2 separate regions of the Homo sapiens genome follow, and region 2 is linked to region 1. The links come from fine-mapping of genetic effects on gene expression. Tissue or cell type: visceral fat. Region 1 holds a variant in brackets; the other region holds the start of a gene. All regions are shown on one strand. Distances are between the middles of the regions.

Region 1 (7,852 bases):
GGGACAGGGGGACTCTGTGCTCCTGCTGCTACCCCTCACCTCAGGTGGGTGTTACCTGTGTTAGGCCGTTTTGTTTTCTATAAAGAAATGCCTGAGACTAGATAATTTATAAAGAAAAGAGGTTTAATTGGCTCACGGTTCTGCAGGCTGTACAGGATGCATGGTGCAGGCATCTGCTCCTGGTGAGGCCTCAGGAAGCTTCCAGTCATGATGGCAGGCAAAGGGGGAGTAGGCGCATCATAGGGTGAGAGCAGGAGCGAGAGAGAGGGGAGGTCCCAGACTCTTAAACAACCAGGCTCAGGTGAACTCACTGAGCAAGAGCTCGCTCATCACCAAGGGGATGGCACTAAGCCATTCATGAGGGGTCTGCCTCCATGATCCAAGCACTTCCCACCAGACCCCACTTCCCACACTGGGAATCAAATTTCCAGTGAGATTTAGAGGGACCCAACATCCAGACAGTGCCACTCCCTAAGGAGGGAGCCATCAGCAGATGTGGCGCAGGAGGCTGAGGCTGGGGAGATCTGGGCTGACCAGAGACCCTGAGTGGGCTACTGCTTGCGGTCCACTGCGGTGAGTCTCGGGGCTCCTTCTGGGGTCTGCAGGATGGTGTGCCTGAGGCTAGGGGCAGGTCCGGGAACCCCATGTCCTCTTCAAGGCCAGGCCACCCAGCCCTTCAGCAACACTGCCTTGGGGCCTGTCCCTGGAGAGGAGATGAGGCTGCTGAGCTGTGCCAGGGCTGCCTCAGCGGGGCTAAGTGTGTTGGAGGAGGCTCACATTCCTGGGTGTGCTCCCACAGCATGTGGGGTAGACCTGTTCAACCTGGAAGGACTCTGGCCCCAAGAGGTCAGAGTGGCTGCCGCAGAAGGACACCTCTCAGGCCTCCCTTCAGGAGAAGCTACCCCAAGGGACGTGACTGACCATCCCAGCTGCCGCACCTGCAGGCGCCGCTGTGGTACTCACTCCCAACACTTCCTCTCCCCGGACTGCCCCTGCTGGAGGCTGAGCCAGCGAGGTCATTTGCAGATGTGGGACTCCTCCGGGGGGAGTCTTTGCCTGGGTCTCTGCCTCACCTGGCTGAGGCATCCCTAGAGCGGTGCTGGCTGAGGCTCTTCCAATTCCCTTTCTGCCCCCATCCTTGCAGCTGTGACAGCTGGATGCCAGGGTCCGAAGGCTCTCCTGCCTATTCCTGCTCTGTACCCCCTTTATCCTTCAGAGATATTTCTTGGAGGACCCCCAGATGACTAAGCCTGAGGAAGGAACAGTCCTGCCGAGAGCCAAGGGGCCCCAGCACCACCCATAGCCCTGGCAGGTATGTCTGGCAGGAGATGCTGCCTGGAGACAGGTGGAACCCCCCCCATGGCAGCACCCCCAAGTCCAGCCTTTGAAGGAGCTTTTGGGGGCAGTGCTTGGAAGGCTTCAGTTCCCACACAGCCTTGGGCCTGACTCAGCTTCACTCACAGCCCTTGGTCTCCCCGTTGGCAAATGTGTGCTCGTCTAGGCCCCTGCCTGAGATCCCTGCTGGCCAAAGCTCCATCTCGGTTTATCTGGATCATCTTCTCCCAGAGCCTCCTGGCCCTTTGTGGGATTGAAAGGATGTCAGGGCAGGAGGGCCTTCAGACTCTATCAGGCTCCACCACTTAAATCTACAGAGAGGTACAGAGAGGGTAAGTAACTTGTCTGAAGTCACACAGTAGGTCTGAAGCAAGCTAGTCAGGACCATGGTTGTATGATGGTCCTTCCTGGTCTCTTCTCACCTGGCTGGGTGATTTCCTGTGACCTCAAATCAAATCAGAGGTCACTGCCTCCAAGGGCCATCCATATGCAGCCCAGACCTCTGAGGGGAGGGCAATGGGTCTCAGCATCTGCCTCCCCAGCCTGCAGACCAAACCCCTCCACTGACATTGCTGGGGCCTCCTCAGCCTGGCTCAACTGCCTCTCCTGGTTCTCCTAGGCCCACCTCAGGCTTTCACTCACTCCCTTGCCCTCCTGGGGGACCTTCTCCTCTTGACCCATGTATTAGTCTGTTGTCACGCTGTTAATAAACACATACCTGAGACGGGGTAATTTATAAAGGAAAGAGGTTTAATTGACTCACAGTTCAGCATGGCTGGGGAGGCCTCAGGAAACTTACAATCATGACGGAAAAGGAAGCAAACATGCCCTTCTTCACATGGCGACAGCAAGCAGAATGAGAGCTGAGTGAAGGAGGAAGCCCCTTATAAAACCATCAGATCTCGTGAGAACTCACTCGCTATCACGAGAATAGCATGGGGGAAACTGCCCCCATGATTTAATTACCTCCCACCGGGTCCCTCCCACCACACATGGGGATTATGGGAGCTACAATTCAAGATGAGATTTGGGTGGGGACACAGCCAAACCATATCTCTTCGAAGGTTTCCATGACCCCAGCCTAAATAGCCTGCCCTGGGCCTGGGCTTCTTGCTTGGCCCTTAGTGTAGCATAGTCCCCACCGTGGTCTTTGCTTCACGAGCATCTCCTGCCTCAGAACCAGCCTGAATGCACCTTGAGGGCTGGAGGTTTGAATCCTGGCTGCACCTGGCCCAGGTGGCTGGCTTTCTCAGCCCATGAGGTGGAGGTAAGAAAGTGCATGGGCTTTTGAGTTAGACAGACCTGGGTTTGAGCCGCAGTGTGGCTGGGGTGGCCTCCTCACATCTTTGTGAATCAGTTTCTTTGCATGTAAAATGGGGAAGTTGAAACCCATCTTGGATATGTGAGGAAGACCCGGCTAATGTATGGAAAGTGCTCGGGATGGTACCTGGCCCAGCGGCTCTTCCCAACCATCTAAGCTGCCTCCCCTTCCCTCCCTGCCTTAGGGTCTGGCTCAGGGCTGAGCACCCAGGAGATGTTTCAAATCCAGAAGTGGAACTGTGGGGAAATAGTGGAGGAGGCTTTCTGGGAGGGGTCTGCTGGGGAGACAGTGAATTCCTGTCAGCTCGCAGTGGAGCTCAGAAATACCGATTCAGCACTGGCTTCCAGAGTGAGAAACTCTGCAGGGCTGGGAGTTGTGGGGAGAGAGAGAGGAGATGGGAGGTGGTGGAGTGGGGGTGGGGGTGAATGAGGGAAAGAAGAGACAGAGAGAGAGAAAGAGGAGTAGAGGCGGAAAGAGAGGAGGTCAGAGATACAGACAGACCCGGAGGGAGAGACACCAAGCGACTGGCAGAGAATGAATCAAATAAACAAAAAGATGGAGAGAAATCCAGACAGTTAGAGAGGCAGAGAGCCAGGAGAGGAAGTGTGCAAGCTCAGGAAATGGAGAGAGAGAGGGAGACAGAGAGAGAGAGAGAGGGAGAGAGAGAGAGGGAGATTCTGGGGGTACAGTTTGCAGGCCAGGTCCCCTGTGCGCTGCCTGAGCACCTCTCCACAGGGCAGGTGGGGGGACTTCCTTTTGGGTGAGGACCTTTCAGGCTGTCTTTTTCCTGGTCAAAGGCCATGTCCACTCGTGACCCCTGTGAGTGCTTCCCTGGAGTCCTGCAGCCCAGGGCCAGCAGCAGAGTTGGCTGTGGCCTGATCCATGGGGGCTCTGGAAATCCTGGAGCTTGGTGATGAGCCGTTCAGAGAACACCTCCAAATGCCAGTGCCCCAGTGGAGGGGCTGAAAGCAGGGCAGGGAAGGGACATCTGTGGACTTGTATTTCAGGCCAGCAGGGCTTGAGGTGAATGGAGGAGGAGGAGGGCGAATGGTCAAGTTTTTTAGTCTCTCTGGGGTGGACAAGTCCACTCTGCCTCATTCCACTGCCTTAGCTTGAGTGCCTCTAGGGCCAGGTGGCTCCCGCATCCCCTAAGAAAGCCTGCTGTGAGAGTGGGAAGGTCTTCACTAGGTTGGTGCTGCCACTCTGGCCTTGGCTGTGGGGTGTGTGTGTGCATGCAGGTATAAGCTGTAAGCCAGCATGAGACCACAGCGCTGCCTGTGGGGAGAACTTTGCTCCCCCAGAGGAAGCAGGGTCATTTCTCTTTGGGTCCCTTAGTTGACTTCAAGCCCCTTCAGTCTCAGAAAAGGACTTTTGATAGATTCATTTATACTGAAATGCCAGGAAATAACTTTGTAGTTTCCCCTAAAGGGGCAATTTTAACCTAAAGCATCACTTCTCTCTGGGGCAA[T/C]GGCAGGCAGTGGGGTGGGAAGTTAGCGGGGAGGGCTGCTCTCTCTGGCTCCCGTTGCCACCAGAATCCCTCCTCCCACCTCTACAGCAGGCTCTTGGCAGGCGGGGACCATTTCTTCTGTTTCTTCTGTGTCCTTCCCAATCAGGACACAGTGAAGTCCCTCCAGAGGGGGCTCCCAGTGAGGGGTAGAGATAGAACAGCAAGAAGAGCCTTTGCACCCGTGAGCCACATCACCAAGCAAGCACTGACTAAGGTGTGAGTCCCAGCTGTGGGTGGCTGCTGTGTGGCCTTGGACAAGTCCTCACCCTCTCTGGGCCTCCATTGCCTACCTGGGAAAGATGAGGTTTGGGAGAGTGATGGTCATTGAAGGCTCCTCTGGCAGTGGTGTCTGAGGTTCTGGGCCTTTCACCCGCCTCAGGTTGCTGGTCAGCACCCGGGCCACGCACTGATTGCCACAGGACCGGGTGATGGATTCTAGATGACCCAGTGGCCCTAGACCAGCCAGGCAACCAGACTCTTCCATCCGGAAATAGTGGAAACGTTCTTTAGACACCCGCTTGTCTGACTCCCTCAGTGACAGGTGGGGAGACCAAGGCCTGGGTAGAGGGGTGGCTTGCCCGAGTCCCACATCATATGAGCATTGGGTCTGAATTACGAACAAGTCTCCTGCCACTTTTCGCAGTTGGTTGAGTCTTAGGGGTAAATCCTGGTGGGCTCCCTGACAGAAGTGAAAGCTAAGATAGGTTCTGAAGGAAAGTGTGAGTGGGGAGAGATGGGAGGGGTGGGTGTAATTTGCAGGTCTTACAGAGAGGGGCCCCAACTTCTGCCCAGAAGTCAGTTGGGAAGGGAGAGGGGCTGGGTGGTCCACCTGCCCTTGGCCTGTCTATCTCCTGCACCCTAAGGCTCCAGAAACCCCTGGCAAGGGCTGGCGTCTAAGCTGGCTGCTCTGCATTTGGTCTCTGGTGTGAGTACTGGAGGACACCTCTCCCTGTGGGCTGCCCCTGGGTCAGTGGCTAGACTGGGCTGGCCACCACCGTAAATCACCCAGGGAGCTGGGCTAGTGGACATGGTTTGTGCATCCTGGGCACCCACCCTGCAACTCTGAGAACGGACGGCAACATGTCATTTTAACAAAGTTGCCGATTTCCTTGTCACATAGGAGGTGGACAGCCATGGCCAGCACCACCTCACTCACCCCCAGACCCCTCCAGGACCTCCCCAGCCTGGTGAGTGGGTGCAGAAGGTGAAGGCTGACAGGTCCCATCAACTGGATTGGGGAGAGGCACCTACCGCCCCAGTGGAACTGGCATCTGAGTTTTGGTACCCCCCGACCTCCCACTCTGCCTCCTACTCTCTTGACCATCTCTCAGTGGGATCTCAGCAGATCCCACTGTCCCTGAGTGTGCTGTGCCAATTTATCCCCCAGATGTATGCACACTGCTCCTGCCACCTGGAACACATTCTTCTTTCCCCTCTATCTGGATTCTTCTTTCAAGGCCTAGGTGAAGACTTCTCCCTCCAGGAAGCCTCCTGTGGTTGTCCTAGCATAACCCTTAGACCTCTGAGAGCAGGTGAGCAGCTTTTGCTTGCTAACTTTGGTGATCAGGCTGGTTGCTGCCTGGAGCACCTGACAGAGGCCGCATTCAGGCTCAGCCGGAAAGAGTAGCATGGATGGGCGATGTCTATCCGGGTCAGGGAGAGGGAGGCTGGGGTGGCTTATGTTTACTTTCCTTGCTGAGGCTTCTGGGCCATGTGGCCATTGTTCATACCCTTTGTGCACGCAAAACTTCTCTCATCTCTTTACCCCCTGTCTGCTCAGGGGATACGTAGTCCCCTGACGGCAGGCGCCCAGCCTCATGCTTCCTCTGTGCCCCTCATCACGCTGGGCACACATAAGGCTCCGTAGACCTGAGTCAGATGGAGGGGCAGAGCATAAGATGCTGTCACTTTCCATGGGGAAACTGAGTCATAGAGTTTCAGAGCCATTTACAGGGAAGGGACCTGGGGCTCGGAAGGGGAAGGCATTTTCTCACGGCCCCAGAGGGAGTACTGGGAAGGCTCTATGAGAGACTGGCGGTCAAAGTGTAGCTTCCATGCCTGAAGGGTGTCTGGCAGTCCAGGTGGAGCAGGGGTCCCGATGCTGCCTCCCCATGCCCCCGGCCCTGCAGAGGCTCCTCCTTTTTTCATCCGAGGCTCTGAGAGCATTCATTAGTGCACTTTACTCCCATGTGGGGTATCCATGCCTTTCATTATTCCCATTTTACAGATGGGAACATGGAGGGAGCAAGGGGTTCATGGCTGGACCCCAGGTCCCATCCAGCAGGTTGCCAGTGGCTGTAGTGACTCTGGCCCCAAACATGGGCTGGCCATGACCCTGGCTCAGGTTGGGCCCCAGGCTTATCAAGGAGATGCTTCTCCCCTTAGGGGAGCCCAATGCAGAGAGTGTCTGAGCTAGAAAGTCACTTACAGGTTGCAGATTCTGAGCCCCTGGTGATCCAGACGGAGAAAATGAGTCCCAGAGAAGGTCAGGGGCTGGTCCCAGACCACACAGCTTCCCTTAATGGACAGGCTTCCTGACAACCAGTTCTCCCCCAGTCTTCCCAGAATGCAGAACAGAGGGAGAGCTGTGGCCGTGTATCTGGGTCCTTGCTGGAGCTCCATCCTGCTCAGGCCCGAAAACACTGGAAAGGAGACCTGGCTGGATGCTCCAGTAGCCTTCCCTGGGCCAGCATGGCACTGAATCTCTGCAGTCTCACCTAGCCTCAAGTTCTCACTGTAGTGTAAATGACTGATAGCAGAGCCTTTCCTGCAGCCATGTTGGCAGGAGGGGGAAAGGAGCCCCTGAAAGAGGAAATGGTACGCTTCTAGGTGTTGCAGGGATGGGTTGTGATGTAGTCCAGAGAGGGAGTCTGGGGGCCTGGACACTCAACTTCTTCTGAGCCCCGCTCCCAGATTGGCCCTCCTCCTCTCCCTCCTCTTCCTCCTCAGTCTCTCCGTCTCCCCTCCTCTTGTCCTCTTGCAGCAGCTGTTAATCCAGCCTCCCCTCCGCATGGTGCATTGTAAAGAGCTGGCCCTCTGACAGATTTGCATTGGTGGTTTATTGATTTAATTAAGCAGGGGCTGTAAACAGTGCCCCCCTCCTCAGCCTGAGGAGCATCCACAGGGCACCTGGCTGGCTAGCATTAAAGACCCATGGAGGCCGCTGACTGTGGAGGCAGCCTGATTTAAGGACCTGTGATTCCCGTGAACTTTGTTCCTCCATCCCTCTTGGATTCTATCAGAAGTGCCATCACAGTGGCAGTGATGGCTTAATCATAGCCCAGTGCCTCTGCCAGGGAGAGAGGGCCTCAGTGGACAGCAGGCAGAGGGTCTTGGGAGCCGTGGTTCTCAGTCTGCCCCGCCCCCTCTCTCTGGCCCCACCAGTCCGGGGCCCACCCCAGCTGTTCCCACTCCTGCGAGTGCCCTGCCCAGTGCTCTGGGAAGGCTGCTCTTTTGTCCTCAACAACAGAGCCGAAGTTCCGGAGGCCCATGGTGTACTTTACCGTGCCCACTCTTGCCTGGCATCTCCAGATGCCACCATAGAGCAGGCATTTGCTGCGTCTGCAAAATAGGCAGGAGTGACTGTAGGTGACCGCTGTGTGCCCCACTCCCTCCCAAACCAGGGAGTGCTGGCCTGGGAGACAGAGACCTGGGGTAACTGTCCCGTCCTAGCCCTGACTCTGCTGCTC
Region 2 (5,197 bases), 410 kb after region 1:
GGTCATGGTCTTGGGGCTGGACCAGAAATAGCCCTGATCTGCTGCCCTCACTGAATCCTACGGCTTTGTCCCTCGTGCTGTCCCAGCTCCCCTCAGCCTCACCTGCCTGCCTGTAACCGGGCATGACAAAAAGAGCCTTGGCTCTGGGTTCTGCCACTCCATCACTGCCAGCTGTGTGCCCTGGGAAGCCACTTGACCTCTTTGAGCCTGGCTTTCCTCATCTGTAAAATGGGGACAACAGTCCCATTTCACTGGGTACTGGGGTGGGGGGGTGGAATCAAATGGGAGACTGTTCATGAAAATGCTCTGTATATTAGAGGATTTTTTTCCAACGTAAAGAGGCTAAAAATAAGGCCTGATGACTAAACTAACATATACACTATCACATTTTGGGGGTGGGGAGTGTCTTCCTTGGAAGTGATGGAAATTTGCATTGAGTGCCTGGCATGGATCACCTGACTTAATTCTCCCGACAGTCCTAAGCCGACCCTGGGTTTCAGAGAGGTTTAGTAATTTTACCATTATCCCTCAGCTTGTAAGCCTGGAGCTAAGCCCCTTCCTCTCCTGGGCCGGGGGGCTTTCTGACAATTTAGGGTGCTAGTCTCCAAACTCGCCTGCTGGTGGAGCTTGTTAAATAGATCCATTCTGGATCCCCATTCTGCACCCCCTGAGTGATGGGTTGTATTAATCCAGGTATTTATTGAACACAAATTATGTGCCCACGATGAGGGAAGAGCAAACAAAGCAGATACAGCACCACCCTCAGGGATTGGGGAGTGGCAGCAACCCTCCTGGGGAGAGGTCCCCAGAATCTGGATGTGTACTCGAGACTTTTATGATCAGGCCAGTGTTTGGGGAATGGTGGTTATAAAATGAGAGGCTGGGGCAGGGAGTGGGGATGTTCTGAGAACCTGTCCACACACTGACAGCCTCAATGGGTTCTGTGGCACCCCTGAGCCCTGGGATGGCAACTGCAAGAATTTACTATCCATGGTCACAGATCTTCAGGCCCTGTGAAGCATCCAGATCCCCGCTCTGAATAGGCCAACTGGGCCAGGACCGGGAGTCAGGAAGGTTTCCGCCTTTTTTTTTTTTTTTTTTTTTTTGAGATGGAGTCTTGCTCTGTCGCCCAGGCTCCAGGCTGGAGTGCAGTGGCACCATCTCGGTTCACTGAAATCTCCGCCTCCCGGGTTCAAGCGATTCTCCTGCCTCAGCCTCCCACATAGCTGGGATCACTGGCACGCACCACCATGCCCGGCTACTTTTGTATTTTCAGTAGAGACGAGGTTTCGCCATGTTGGCCAGGCTGGTCTCAAACTCCCGACCTCAGGTGATCCGCCTGCTTCGGCCTCCCAAAGTGCTGGGATTACAGGCGTGAGCCACCGCGCCCGGCCCCTGCTTTCTTAAAGAACACGCGGCAGCTGTGTGTTACACGCTATGGCTGAGGTCAAGTGTGAGGGCTGGAATTGCTGACTGCCATGTTCTGGGTCTACTGAAAATAGCTGCCTGGCCTGGGAGGCCCAGTTCAGTCCGGGTGTGGGTCCCGCTTCACCTCCAGAGCAGCGGCAGCCGGTAAGGGTAGAAGCGGCCTTTGGAGAGGGGTCTCTGCAGCGGCCTGGGGACAAGATGAGGGCTCCTTTGAGTCCTGGGGTGCAGGTTATAGTAGCTAAAGGGGAGGTCTGAGACAGTGGGGTCTGGCTCCAAGGTAAAGAAGGAGCAGCAACCAAAAGGCCTGATGCGCAGCGCACCCATCGCAAGCATGGGCAGTGCGTTTAAGACTGGGTGACTCACTTTTTCTCCTATAAAATGGGCGCACGCAGGCCCCAGCTCAGCGCCAGAAGGGGGAGCCCCGGCGCGCCGGCAGAAGACAAAGGAAAAAAGCGTGTTTGCAAACGGGGAAGCGGCGGCGTGCTGCCGCGAGGGGCGGGGCGGGGCCGGGGGAGGAGCCCGCCTGCCGCCTGCCAAGCCCAGTGGTCCTGGCCGTGCGCCGGAGGCAGCGGCGGCGTGGCGCAGCGGCGACAGTAAGTGCGGGCCGGCTCGGGCTCTTCCGGCTACGGTCCCGGCCGCCCCCAGACTCGCGCTCAGCGACCTCCCTCCCGGGCCCTGGGGGCGGCTGCGGGCTGCCAGGGGAGCCGCAGGACCCTACCCCATCCGTGGTCCCTTCCCCACCGTCCCTCCTCTCTCTCCTTGCTCTCTGCCACCCCTCTTTCTGGGTCTCTATCTTCTCTTCCCCAAATCCTCTCCCCTCCTCCTCCCTGAGACTGGACCTCACCGCCTGTATGGTGGGGGCCTGGTATGGACCCGTCGGCCCGAAGTATCCAGACGGTGGCTGATTCTCTCGGTCCCAGCTGCGGGGCCTGAGGCTGGGGCTGTTTACACCGCAAAGCCGGTTCTGCCGCGGCCAGTAGGCGGTGCCCTGCGCTTCCCAGTGCCTTCCCACAGGTTAGCCCTACCAGCTCCCCACCCCGGTTCACAGCCCAGGAGATCGAGGCACAGAGGGGCGAGCCACCTAGCCAGAGTCAGGAACCTCCTTGGAACCAGCACCCAGGCTTCCCAGCCCAGATGAGGTTTTGCCGCGGCCCCAGCAGTGCCTGCCTCCTTGTGTGGGGCTGTCTGTCTGTGCATGGCCGGGCTCCCGCAGGTGACCCAGGAGCACGTTCCAGGCCACAGCCAGCTTGTTTTGGGGAAGGTTGGGCACTTCCTTGCCTGCCTTTCTCTTTATTTTTTAATCCAGAAGCCAGCAGCTAGCTTTTATAAAGACTAATAAGACTTTGCTCACTCCAGTGCCCTGGCCTGTGACCCTGGTTAGAGAAAATTCCTGGCTCCTTCTTCAGAAGCTCAGTCAAGCCTTGACAAATAGACGCTAGGAACTGAGAAGGGGGCCCTAGCCAGGTGTGGTCCTGAGTGACAGGGCTGGTGGACCTTCTAGCCGCCCCCACAGGTAGCTGGAGCCTCTGGAAAGAACCACTTGCCGGTTCTCTCTTGTTCTATGTGGGTGGGTCATGATTATTTTTTACATTTTAAACACTAATTTTTAAAATGTAACAAGTGAGCTTGTTACATTTGTACCATTTTGTGCCAGACAAAATAGCATAGACTGGGTGGCTTAAACAAAATTTGTTTCTCATGGATCTGGAGGCTGGGAAGGGCAAGATCAAGGTGCTGGTTGATTTGGTTTCTGATGAGGGCTCTCTTCCTGGCTTGCAGACAGCCTCCTTCTTGCTGTGCCTTCACATGGCTTTTCCTCTATGAGTGGGTGCATGTGGAAAAAGCGATTTTCCACACAGTGAGCTTCCAGACAGTGAGCTTGTTAATGCTGGCCTCCATGCGAATCCAGGCTGGGGAGGGGCTCTGCTAACCAGGGGAGTTTAAAATAGACTTGCTGGCTGGATGCATTGCACTTGGGCATCCAGTGGCCCCCCACCTGCTGGCTCCAGGGTACATGCTACCCCAGCAGGGGAGAATGTCCTGGTCGTGCAGAGTCCGTTCATTCAGCAAACATTGACAAGGGTGCCTGCAGTGTGCCTGGGCCCCTCCCGACTCACTGGCTTCAAGGCTTGCAGGAAGGATGCCTGTACTTGGAACCAGCAGACACAGATTCCCATTCCCAGCCAGTCCTCCCCGGTGTGCTGAGGAGTCCAGCATGGGCCCCAGTCTGCTTGGCTGTGTAACTTCACTCTTGTCATCTACTAGTTATGTGACCCTGGGCAAGTTACTCAACCTTTCTGAGCCTCAGACCCCTCTGTGAAATGGGTCTTAGAGTAGTACCTAATATATTAGGCTGTTGTCAGCCTCAAGTGTGACCTCTGTTAGGCACAGACCTTGGCATTTGTGATCACTGGACTTAAGTTTAGCTATTGGGAGTTCTTTCTATTTGTGGGACATAGCAAGTGCCTTCCAGACCTCAGTTTTTCCATCTGAAAAAAGGGGGCAATGTTTTCTGCCCTGCCTAATTCCAAGGGATGCTCTGAGGTTCTCCTGAAATAGTGGATAAGGTTCTGCACCCATGTGAGGAGGTGTTCCCATCCCACCAGGGAATAAAGGCCCCAGTCTTCTTGGTACGATGCTTTGAGTTAGGCTTAGCCTCCTATAGAAACCAAGATGCATTTATTTATTAGTTTATTGGGTGGGGAAGAGGCTACTGCAGAAGGGACTCTGAAGTGTCCCATCCTCAGCATTTTGGAGACATTTCTCATTTATCAAGCTGCTGCCACATCCTAGGTGCTATGTAGAGCAAAGAAGCAGGCATGCTACCTTACAGCCAAATTCAGCAGCCAGCCAGCCAGCCATGCGACAGGCCCAGGATGCCAGGGAGATGCTGACATTTGTTCAACAGCTGCTTATAGGCCAGGCATTGCCAGCCAGTTGCAGTTGCATAACTATCATAAAAACAGCTTCTCTGGGTTTACATTTGGGGAAATTGAGGCACAGAAATGTGGTAACTTGCCCAAGGCCATGTAGGCAATAGTTGCTGGCAGCCTAGGCTCTTCCATTTATCTTAGGCGCTACCATAGATTGAAAGTGGCTGGCTCCTTGTAGGGTGTGATGAGCAGAGGTGGGACCCAGGCAGGAGCTGCAAACCCAGGCTTGGCCATTTACGTGGCCTATGGCCTTCAGTTCTTTGGACCTCTCTTTCCTCACAAATGAAATGGGAATGGACTGTCAGAGGCTACACACCAGCTTCTGGAGGCAGCCCTGGACACTACCAGTTTTTTAAACAATTATTACTTAATTTGAATTTTTTTAAATTTACACTTTTAATTTTGTTTTTGAACCGGTAATAAACTAGTCACATAGTTCAAAATTCAAGAGACACAAATAAGAATGCAGGGAAGTCCCCCTCCCCGCCCCCCACCATCCCAGTTTCCCTCCTTAGAGACAGCCACTGTTAGAAACTTCTTATGTAGCCTTCCAGAGATATTCTGTGCATATACAAATACATATGTGTATGTATATTTTCTCTCCCCACTTTTTTTACACACATAGTAGCATATTCTACACACCATCCTGCTCCTTATTTCTTTCACCTGAAATCGAAAAGGGTTTAGAGATCATTCTTTGCCCATTAAGGGTCCTAATTCTTTTTTATGGCTGCACAGAACTGTGAATGCCCTTAGACCAGGTTTGCCTTTCTGGGTACATTGCCACAGTCCCCACTATCATGCAGTGTTTTACAAAACCCAGCCTGTTCCACAGT

Which allele goes with the higher level. Positions count from the first base shown, and alleles are read on the strand shown. Sizes are in standard deviations (SD) of each study's normalised expression.
For the expression in visceral fat of the gene that starts at base 1,970 in region 2, C is the high allele of the variant in region 1 and T is the other (moderate effect, 0.67 SD a copy in GTEx).

The links. PIP is the estimated chance that this variant, and not a neighbour inherited with it, causes the effect.
Region 2: SLC29A3 starts here. The variant in region 1 is fine-mapped to the expression of SLC29A3 in visceral fat (GTEx, PIP 0.98).

Annotation. Positions count from the first base shown.
Region 1 is chr10:70,910,198-70,918,049 of GRCh38, forward strand. No RefSeq gene overlaps it. Among named protein-coding and RNA genes, the nearest start is that of LINC02622, 25 kb to the right of the region's middle. RefSeq lists a silencer at 7,539-7,713. The variant T/C (reference allele first, on the strand shown) is at 4,125.
Region 2 is chr10:71,317,290-71,322,486 of GRCh38, forward strand. SLC29A3 (solute carrier family 29 member 3) reads left to right here and starts at 1,970. Exons shown (of 6, transcript NM_018344.6): 1 at 1,970-2,021. The coding sequence starts at 2,021. LOC124902445 (a long non-coding RNA gene) reads right to left here and starts at 2,374. Exons shown (of 2, transcript XR_007062183.1): 1 at 2,273-2,374; 2 at 680-1,615. RefSeq lists a silencer at 1,767-2,216.